Linked DNA regions of Homo sapiens: region 2 is linked to region 1. The links come from fine-mapping of genetic effects on gene expression. A gene starts in region 1. The other region holds a variant in brackets. All regions are shown on one strand. Distances are from middle to middle.

Region 1 (5,377 bases):
ACCAGCTGGAACCAAGATGGCAACAAAAGTGACCTCACTTTTGTCCCTCACTGCTCATTATATGCTAGTGATAATGCATGCTAAAAGACATTCCCACCAGCACCATGACAGTTTACACATGCCACGGCAATACCCAAAAGTTATCTTATGTGATTTAAAAGGGGGAGGAACCCTCAGTTCCAGGAACTCCGGATCCCTTTGCTAGAAAATTCATGAATAACCTGCCCCTTATTTAGCATATAATAAGAAGTAGCTATACATATAGATAGCTGGTAGTCCAGGAGTGCTGCTCTGCCTATGGGGTAGCCCTGTAAACCCCATCCACCTGTATGGATGCTCTATGAAACCCACTTTTCTGTACTCTGTTGCTCTAATAAACTTGCTTTGCTTTCACTCTTTTCTGTTGGGTCACTCTCAAATTATTTCCTGTGCAAAGCCAAGAACGCTCTCAGGCTGAGCCCCAGTTTTGGGGCTCACTTGCATTAAGATAAGTTGCAGAAATTGTAGCATGTCTTTCATTCTTACGGTGTCTCACTAATAGTGTGTCAATCTTTCCTTATTGTATGTACTCATTTTATCTTACTTAAATCATAAAGATGATATTCTTCTACACCATCTTTTAAGATCTTTGTGGCCTTTTCTTTATGGCTGTAATCTATGTAGAACTGACTTTTGTGTGGGAGTTAAATAGGAGCCCAGTTTGATGTTTCTCCTTACATGGTAGCCAGCTGCCCAGCACCCCTAGTTGAATGAGTTCTTCTTTTCATGTGGATTTCAATGCTCCCCCAGTCTGATATTGTGTCCATGTGTGTGGAGAGGTCTGTTTCTGGATTGCTCTTTTTTCCATTGGTCTGTTGTCTGCCATGTTCTGATTCCACTTTGCCTTAATTGTGTAGCTTGATCATGTGTCTTAACATTGAAAAAGCAAATCCTCACACCTTGCCTTCTACAAGAAAATGTTTTGACTCTTCTTGGTCATTTAGAGTCTCATATAAATGTTAGAATTAGGTTGTCAATTCCCATAGAAAAATCTGTTAGAATTTTGATTGGGACTGTGCTGAATCATCAACCAGACAGAACTGTTACGAGCACAATATTGCCTCCAGTACAGAGATGCTGAGACCAACTCGATCGGGGAGACCCTAACCCAGCGGCGCTAGAGGAATTAAAGACACACACACAGAAATATAGAGGTGTGAAGTGGGAAATCAGGGGTCTCACAGCCTTCAGAGCTGAGAGCCCCAAACAGAGATTTACCCACGTATTTATTAACAGCAAGCCAGTCATTAGCATTGATAGATATTAGATTAACTAAAAGTATACCTTATGGGAAACAAAGGGATGGGCTAAAATAAAGGGATGGGTTGGGCTAGTTATCTGCAGCAGGAACATGTCCTTAAGGCACAGATCACTCATGCTATTGTTTGTAGTTTAAGAATGCCTTTAAGCAGTTTTCCGCCCTGGGTGGGCCAGGTGTTCCTTGCCCTCATTCTGGTAAACCGACAACCTTCCAGCATGGGTGTTATGGCCATCATGAACATGTCACAGTGCTGCAGAGATATTGTTTATGGCCGGTTTTGGGGCCAGTTTATGGCCAGATTTTGGGGGGCCTGTTCCCAACACAGAGACATGGTCAGTCTCTTCATTTATTTAGTTCTCCAATAACGTTCAGGGTGTTAGTTTTCTCTGTAGAGGTTCTCTGTAGAGTACATCTTGGATTTGTTTCTAGGTACAGGAAACTTTTTAAAAATATATTTTATATAGACCAGGGTCTCACCACGTTGCTCAGGCTGGTCTTGAACTCCTGGCCTTGGCATCCCAAAGTGCTGGGATTACAGATGTGAGCTACTGCACCCAGCCAGGAAATGTATTTTCTATTGCTCTCCCACAACTCCCACCACATCTTCTCCATCTGCATGAAATCATATTCTCTGTATGGTATCTGTAAAGTCATATCTTATTCTGAGAAATGTCCATTTCTGCATCAATACTCATCGCATGTATTCTAAATATACTTTGTCTTGTTTGTCTTGTATATAGGTTATTGTAGTTACTTGACCTGTGCCGAAATGTTAAATGTGTGTAAGTTCATGTCCTTCATTCTGGCTTTTTATTCACTAATAGTCATCAGCATCCTTACTGTCAATACAAGAGATGCTCCTTCTCAATATTTTGATATGGTAGTACAAGGATTCCAAAGGAGGAACCTTCTTTTTTAGCAGCTGTGTTTTTTGTTTTGGTTGGCAATTCACTAAGGACTCATCTCATCATGTTATGAGGGAGACATTCTTGGAAGCATGGCTCCTTTTCCGACTCTTCTCAGCACACAGCTGTCACCCATGCTTTGCTGTGAGATGGGGTGCCCTACAGATGGATGGGGTTTACAGGCTTAAGGTTACTGATGTCTTTTCATAAGACATTATTGCCTTGTTTGTTTGTTCTTCAGAAAACAAATTCTAGGGAGCCGGGGTTAATCTGTTCCATAGTCTGAATGTGTTACTGAAACACCAGGGGTTTTGTCTGGGTCCCATTGCATGCTGCACAGCCAATCACTGCCGGGAGGAAGGGCTTTATTCAGGTGCTGCAGCCAAGGAGAATGGGAGATAAGTCTTGAATCCATCTCCCTGACCGGCCAAAATTGGAGGGTTATATAACAGTGGAAGGGATGTAGCTATGTTTGGGAAGGAGTTAGGGAGGGGTAAGAACGCAGCCATGATGAACGAGGGATCCAGTGTCTCCCTGTCTGGATGCAGTGATCTAGTGAATTTGAGAAAGGATTACCCTGTGGAGGGAGGCAACAGGAGGGAGCCTTCTCTCTGGAGCCCCTGGGCATGCTTTGAATTTGAGCCATATAAATCTATTACCTATTAAACTGAGAAGAGAACTAGGTACGCAAGAAGCCAAGTCACTGGGGCGGTGGGGACGATACTTCTCATTTGTAGCCTTTCAATTTGGTGCTCTGTCTGGCTGTTTTGAGAGCTAAACTGTAAGTTGAGACCCCATAGTCACCAGATGAGGCCTGAGGTTCCAGGACTGAAGGGACAGAGTCGGTTTCTGAAACTGACAATCTCTGTTTCTTTTACATGGGCTTCAAACATAGAAATGAAGTGGCTTGGCCTCACTCGCCAGGAGGGGAAATCTGGGCAGTTGGCTGGTGGGTTGACATTGTCCCTCACACCAGTCCTGTAAATTACTCAGGAAGGCCCAGGCCTGGAGAACTAAGACTTGGCTTTCACTGCTTAGCCTGGAAAGGAACTGAGATGGCCAAAGAGGGCTTTATAGAAACAGTGTCAGTGGCCCAGAAATCCTGGAAATCTCCCAAGCTCCAAGGATCAGTTGATCTCTGTGTGTGTCTCCTGCACATAGAGAGCTCCACTCAGTTCTGTGGTCTTTGGGCTGGTGGCCCCAGGGGCCCCTCCCTTGGCACTTGTCCAGGTAACTGAAAAACCACTCTGATATGAGGGTTGGCCCTGCATTAATTTTATCTACTGCATTAGAGGCAGTAGGGTTGTCTCATTGCCTGCCCTGCCAGCTCCTGTGAGTGGTAGAGCCAGCCCTTCAGTGTGGGGCTGGTGGGGGAGCAGTTCCCAGTGAAGGCATTTGAGTTGCATCCCAGCAGGATACCACTCGTTTGCCCTGCTGCACAGACTGGCCTCACTGGCCTCCTAGCACTTCCCGGCTCCATCTGGAGACTTCTAAGTAGATACCTAACCACACTTCCTCATTGTCTCTGTCCCTGCCTCCCTATCCACTGCCATCAAGGCTGGCACATCAGGAACAATAGTGCCCTCCGAGGAAGGGGTGAGGGAGAGATTTCACAATTTATCAAGACCTGAGTGCAGGCACAGGCCACCTGCTGTCTCCTCCCTTCCCATGGCATTCCTTGGATTAACCGTGCCTCTGAGGATGTGAGATGTCCCTGTCATGCCTCCGTGATTGAGTATGTGGGAAGGACTTCTGATGAATCCCTTCATTTCACAGATGGGAAAAACTGAGGCCAGTAGAAGGAGCAGAGTGGGAGCCTGATCCTGATCTTGCTGGAATCGGGCTCCCAGAAGGGAGTGGGGTCTGGAGGCTGGCGGTGGGGGGTGGTGGGGAGGGAGTCTCTGCAACAAAGCAAAATTCCTGGAGGGGATGAGGTGGGACACATGCAGGGTGGGAAGTCTTGGGAAAAGCCTACATTGCTGGGCTGTCCAGAATGGACAAGTACCGAGGGGCCCCTGGTGCCACCAGCCCAACGGATCACAGAACTGGGTGGAGCTATGTCCAGAAATGGAAACCTCAGCTAACAGGACCTGGGCTGAAGCAAAGGGGCCTGTGGGTGTTGACCAGGTGGCCTCAGGGAAGGTATCCCAGAAGAATGGTGTGTGTGAGGCTTATAGTGGACAGATGGGGGACAGGCCTTGAACCTACAAAATGAGGTTCAAGGCCTGCCAGGCTGTCTGTCTGTTGCAAACAGTGGCCCTGAGGAGAGTGAGGGTCACCCTGTAGGCCGGGGGTCTTTCTCAGCAGATGACATAGTACCACCAGAGTGATGGAGAACAGGCAGATGGACCCCACACCTGTCTGTCCTGTACCTCAGAGTTTGTGGCGTTACTTGGAAATGCATTTCCAAGGCTGACCCTGCAGGTCCTGGGGCAGTCAAACAGGGGTTTGAGGAAGAGACCCACCACCTGGTGGGCAGTGGAGCCTGTGCTTTGGAGGAAATGGAGCTGGCCATGGGATGGGGGTCAATGGGGGCAGGTGTGGCTTGAAGGTGGGATGTAGCAGCTGACCTCCCCAGCAGGCAGGCCGGTTATTAGTCCCAGGGGACTTAGGAACACTTTGGGCAGGGCAAGCGGATAGGTCCCTGACCCACAGACACCCCCTTTGTTCCTGGAGTCCAAGGACCCATGACCTTGTGGATGCCCCCAGGGGGCCACAGAACCTCAGACACTCACCTGCTTTTGGAGGACAGCTCTCACCAACCCTCCTGCCCTCACACAGCAGGTGCCCAGCCTGCCCTGCCCATCTCCTCGGCCCTCAGAGTCTAACTTGCTCATGTGAGGCCACAGGGCCCTTGCAGGGGGCATGGCATTGAGTGTATGACCATGCCCTGGATCCTGGGGTCAGTGTCCTCATCTGTGAAATGAGGGAGTTGCATTAGATGCTCATGGGGCACTGCGCCCCTGCTCTCCCTATCTGTGACACAGCCGAGAGCAAAGACCGCTGAGGCGGGGTGGGAGCCAGGGGGCCAGCCAGGGCTTGGTGGGGTGTGGGGCCCGAGGCAGAAAGAGTTTGTTGTGGGGGGAACTGGGGGTCCTGGGCAAAGCTCAGCCTCAGGCCTTGGGAGGCTGGGGCTGGGGGCACCCAGGAGCTGAGGGGATGTGATAAAGGC
Region 2 (5,377 bases), 750 kb after region 1:
CAGAGGCAGGAGGCCAGGGTGTGGCTGTGGTAACCAACCAACAGCCGTGGGCACGTCTGTGCTGTCCGGGAGCTGTGCTGAGGGTGCAGACACAGGGTCCACGTGCAGGGAGACCCCGGCAAAAGGGACGGGCAGCCCCTCACCCTCCTATGCACCCCCGGGGCTGTGCGCCGATGTGGGCTCCGGCCTCTTGCAAGCAGGCACTCCCTGACCATGACACCACCGTGCCCTGCTCACTTAGAGATCTGTAAGGGTCCGACAGGCCAAGGGGCACACCCCGAACAGGGCTGAGGCTCTATGCATCCGGGCTGTGGCTTGAGGCAAATCGGCTCTGAGGTTCTTGGGCTCTCTGTGGGTCACTGTTCCCCAAGAGCAGCCGCCACCCTCACCCTCTGTGTGTCCTACACTCTGTGCAGAGGCGTTTCTCGGACTGTTTATTATTTTTTTAGAGACAGGGTCTCGCTGTGTTGCCCAGGCTAGTAGTCTCAAACTCCTTGGCTCGAGTGATCCTCCCACCTCAGCCTCCTGAGTAACTGGGACTACAGGTGCCATTGTCCCAGCTTCCTGGGACTGTTGACAACACTTTAAGAGTTTTTGCAGCTCATCCCCAAGGAGCCAAATGGTCACAGCAACCAACCTGGGTAAATATCTGACAGGCACTTCCTCTGCCTGCAGACAGCAAGAGGGCACCACTGTGTCACCTGGTGACCTGGGCTGCAGGTCACCTTGCCAGGTCCGTGAGAGCAGGGATTGTGTCTACCCTGCTCCCAGAGGGCCCTTTCGTTCTGACTCCATTTCTCCTATGAATGAGTAAAGGTGTTGACAAGGTCTTACAGCAGGTACCCTCTGATCCTCAGTTTCCCCACCTCCAGTGCTGCCATAAGGGATCAGGGAGATCATCTGTGTGAAGCACCTGATATGGCACCAGCATTCCCCAACAGATGCCATTACTCTCATCCCACCACCATGGCCACTTCGGCTATTCTGATCTCAGCTCTGCCTCACCCACTCTGTGCAGTTTGGGAACCTCTAGCTGCGCTCTCTGGCAGCCTCATCGCACCTCTGTGACCCCTGTGAGCTCAGCCAACTCCCTGAGCAGACTATGAGCTCCTTAGGAAGAGGGGCAAAAGCAGGCCCTTGTACCTATTTGTTAAAAGAAGGAATGACTATTTCACAATCCCTCTGCCAGTGGTGGCAGGAGCTGCCGCGGCAGGAAGAGGACAGACACAGCCCTCGCCCTCTTGGGCTAGGTCTAGTGAGGAATCCAGCCTGCAATTCTGTGAGATAAGTTCTTGGGGGCACAAGAGCACCCAGGAGGGGTACCCTCCCCAGTCCAGGGGCAAGGGTAGTGGGGGGTCAGAGAAGGCTCCCAGAGGACTTGACACGCTGAGACCTGAAGGGGAAGGGGAAGGGGAAGCGAGGGGATTAGGAAAGACATTCCAGACAGAGGAAATGAACTTGTACCAAGACCTGAGGCTGAAAAATCACCTGCGTGACTTAGAAGAGGGAAAGTTGTTCCATATGGCAGGTGTGTTAACTGAAGCCAGATGAAAACCCCAGTCATCTGGCTGGGCACGGTGGCTCACACCTGTAATCCCAGCACTTTGGGAGGCCGAGGCAGGCTGATCACGAGGTCAGGAGATCGAGACCATCCTGGCTAACATGGTGAAACCCCGTCTCTACTAAAAATACAAAAAATTAGCCGGGCGTGGTGGCGGGCGCCTGTAGTCCCCGCTACTCGGGAGGCTGAGGCAGGAGAATGGCATGAACCCGGGAGGCAGAGCTTGCAGTGAGCTGAGATCGCACCACTGCACTCCAGCCTGGGCGACAGAGCGAGACTCTGTCTCAAAAAAAAAAAAAAAGAAAAAAAAAAGAAAACCCCAGTCATCTTCAGGCCTGTACAGGGCTGCACCAGCCTCGTGTGTGTGTTTCATTTGTTCATTCTTTCACGTGCTTCATGCACTCATTCCTTCTTGCCACCTGCTCCCCCATCCCACACCCTGCAGGCTCACCCGACAGTCCCCGTGTTCCTGCGTTGGCAGGCAGCGCTGACCTGCCCGTGGAAGTGCTCCCTGAGCTGCAAACAGGCTTCCGGCGTGTACCACTGCAAAGAGACAGACAGACGGACACATCATCCTGCAAAGCTGTGGCTCCGCCCTCGTAGCCAAGCAGTGAGGGGAGATGATCTTCCCAGCCTTCCTTCCTAGGCCTCACAGCTGGCAGCCTCATTAGCTTTCCCTGACCCATTTGTCATGTGTATCTTCTATTTCC[T/G]CAGCCTTGAGGCTCTGGGGCCTTGTGAGTCCAGAGGGGCGAGCCCAGGCAGGGACTTGGAGATCTGTGTCTCACCTGGGGCCGCAGTTCCCTTGCTGCATGCATGTGACAGGCCTGTCTGCTCTGGGTCTCAACCCTCTCAGGGCGAGACGAGTGGAGCTCTTTTGGTGCCAAGATCCTCCAAGATCCAATTAGCCAGGTGCAGTAGTACATGCCTGTGGTCCTAGATACTGAGGAGGCTGAGGTGGAAGGATTGCTTCAGCTCAAGAGACAGAGGCTGCAGTGAGCTATGATCATGCCACTGCACTCCAACTTGGGTGACAGAGTGAGACCCTGTCTCTAATCCATACCTTCTATGAATCTCTGATGACATTTTGTTTTAAAAACATGCATACATGTGCCTGGAAAATGTCCTAGGAGGCGCTTTCTGCTGTCCACGTTTCTTGGAAGGCAGACCTGAGCAGTGGTTTAAGAGCATGGGCCTCAGGGTCAGAAAAAACTGCACGTACCCCACCCACCCTCACCTGGTCTGTAATTAGAAAAAAATGAGATTAAACAAACTAAAGATGACCATTATTTTTTGCCATTGGATTGGCCCAGGCTAAATACAGAATGTGGCAAGGATGTGGGGAGAAGGACACCATTGAGGCTGTTGGTGTGATCTGTGTATGGCAAGGGTCCCGCCCCCCGCCCCCCACCCCTGCACAGCCACAGCCACCTGCTCTGTCCCTCTGAACACTGCTTGGATCCACAGCTCCCCTCCCTCAGCCGCAGTGTCTCAACCATGGATTCGGGCTCTGCCTGGCCCATCTGCCCTCTCAGTTCCAGCTGTGATTGAGGCAGCAGGGATGGTGAAAGGAGACTGGCAAAGGGCAAGTTACAGAAACTTATCGAGCTCCAGTTTCCTTAAATATTAAACAGGGATGCTCATAATAGCACCTTTTCATGTGGTCGTTGGAGGAGTAACTGAATAATGCAGGTGAGCAGCTTAGCCTGATAGTCTACTTTCCTGCAGAAGAGCAGCAGCTACCATGAACAAGCTGGCTGCTTCTTTCTGTCAGCTTCCATGACAGCTTTAAGCTAGGGACTGGCTCAGACACAATGGTCATTACAGGATGGCTGGAAGACTGTGATAATGAAGGCTGCAGGGTAAGAAGTGTGAGCTGATTTCAGAGACAGGGAAACTGAGGCACATGGCATAAAGGGAAGGACTTGCCTGGCAAGCAGTCTGAAGACCCTGCTCAACCTGACTGAATTTCTCAGGGCCCTGGGGTGCAGGATGAACTTGACCAGCAGTGGCCTTGATCCCTGACTATTATGGGCAGGAGGGGAGAATGCCACCTGTGAAACCAGGATGGATTCCCTAAGCTGCTTCCCTGGGGTAGGGTGCTCTGGAGCCAGACACGGCCAGGTCAAATCCCAGAGGTACCAGGAGCAGCTGTGTGATGTCAGGCAACCCTCCTTAACTCTGATCCTCGCCGTCTGCTCTGCCAATGAGGTTCTTCATCTCATGATACCTGGACTGTTTTGTGCCAATCACACTTTCCTTCCTTTTGACTCAAGAAAGACCAGTCTCTGTCATCCCTAGTTACCACTGTCAAGCTCTGCAGAGAGAATAATTGCCTGAGCCTCTGTTGAGATGGAAAACCCATGGGGAACTGTCCACAGGTCTGAGACACAAAGCCTTTCTCTGTAGGTGTGTGAAGAAGGAACTTAGGGAGGAAGGTAAAGAAGGGGGAAGGAGGAAGAGCCACATACTCCAAATACCCAGGACCTGTCTAGAGTCACCTCCTCCTCACCAGCCTGGCCACAGAATCCAAGATGCAAAAAAGGCCATTCCATGGAGAGGATCTATCCCTCTGCACCTGTCCGAAGCCACAGAGGCAACCACTGAGAGTAGGGGCTTATATATCCTGCCAGAAATATTTTCTGCATATATAAACAAATAGACATTTCTCCCTCTCCTTGTTTTCACACACCGGAGTGTGCTGCACACACTCTACTGCACTCTGTTCCATGCCCTGCATTTTTACTTAACGGTTTACTTTGGCTCTCGTTGCATGTCAGCTCCTGAAGAGGTTGCCTCATTCTTCCTCATGTCTGTGCCAGGAAGCATTACTTGTTTAACCAGTCCCCTCTCCGAGGATGTTTACGTTGTATCTTATCTTCTATTCTTACAAACTGCTCCAACCCCTATCCTTATGCACATTGTAAACCCATGCCAGAATATCTGCCAAGTAAATTCCTAGAAATAGAATAGCAAGGCCAGTTGTGGTGGTCCACACCTATAATCCCAGTGCTTTGAGAGGCCCGGGTGGGAGGATTGCTTGAGGCCAGGGGTTCAAGACCAGCCTGGGCAACATAGCAAGACTTCATCTCTATTAAAAAAAATTAAAAATTAGCCAGGCATGGTAGCACATGCCTGTGGTCCTAGCTACTCCGGGAGGCTGAGGCAGAAGGATTGCTTCAGCCCAGGAGTTAGAGGAGTGAATTATGATGGCACCATTGCACTCCAGCCTGGGTGACAGAGCAAGATCCTGTCTCTAAAAAAAAAAGAAAAAAGAAACAGAATGGCTGGATCTTAGAGGGCAGGGTCATCTTCTATATTGGTAAATATTGTCCACTGCCCCCTATGGAGGTTGTACTCAATTTGTATTCCCTGCTGCAATTAATATTGGATTTTAATACAGACACAAGAGAGCTGTGAGTTTTCAAGCTCATAGAGGCGGAATGGCAAGAGGAGAGAGCCCTGGATTTGGGGTCATGGAACTGGAATGCTGTTTTGATAACAACAACGATGATGAGAACAACAGCAACTATGACTGCAGGGGAGCTCCTGCATACCATGAGCCAGGCACCCAATATGAGAGGAATTACCTTCATGTAACAGTGGCTCTGAGAGGTTGAGTAATTTGCCCACAGCCACACAGCTTAATGACAGAATCAGAATGAAGGATTCACATCAAGGACTGTCTGGCTGCAAAATCCCAGCCCTTATAACCTCCAGGCCACACTGCTGCCCAGTGTCACCATTAACTTGCGGTCCCACCTTGGGCAGTCAGTGACCAGTCTCCCAGCTCCTCAAGGTAAATCTGACAATGGACAG

Evidence for each region. PIP is the estimated chance that this variant, and not a neighbour inherited with it, causes the effect.
Region 2: its variant is the best candidate, but not a certain one, in a credible set for the expression of MIF-AS1 in cerebral cortex (GTEx, PIP 0.51).

The regions. Positions count from the first base shown.
Region 1 is chr22:23,896,453-23,901,829 of GRCh38, reverse strand. It overlaps MIF-AS1 (MIF antisense RNA 1), which reads left to right and starts at 2,900. Exons shown (of 3, transcript NR_038911.1): 1 at 2,900-2,986.
Region 2 is chr22:23,146,790-23,152,166 of GRCh38, reverse strand. It overlaps RAB36 (RAB36, member RAS oncogene family), which reads right to left. Exons shown (of 11, transcript NM_004914.5): 3 at 2,013-2,104. It also overlaps a transcript of RSPH14 not described here. Among named protein-coding and RNA genes, the nearest start is that of RAB36, 4.0 kb to the right of the region's middle. RefSeq lists enhancers at 1,693-2,193, 2,194-2,694. The variant T/G (reference allele first, on the strand shown) is at 2,272.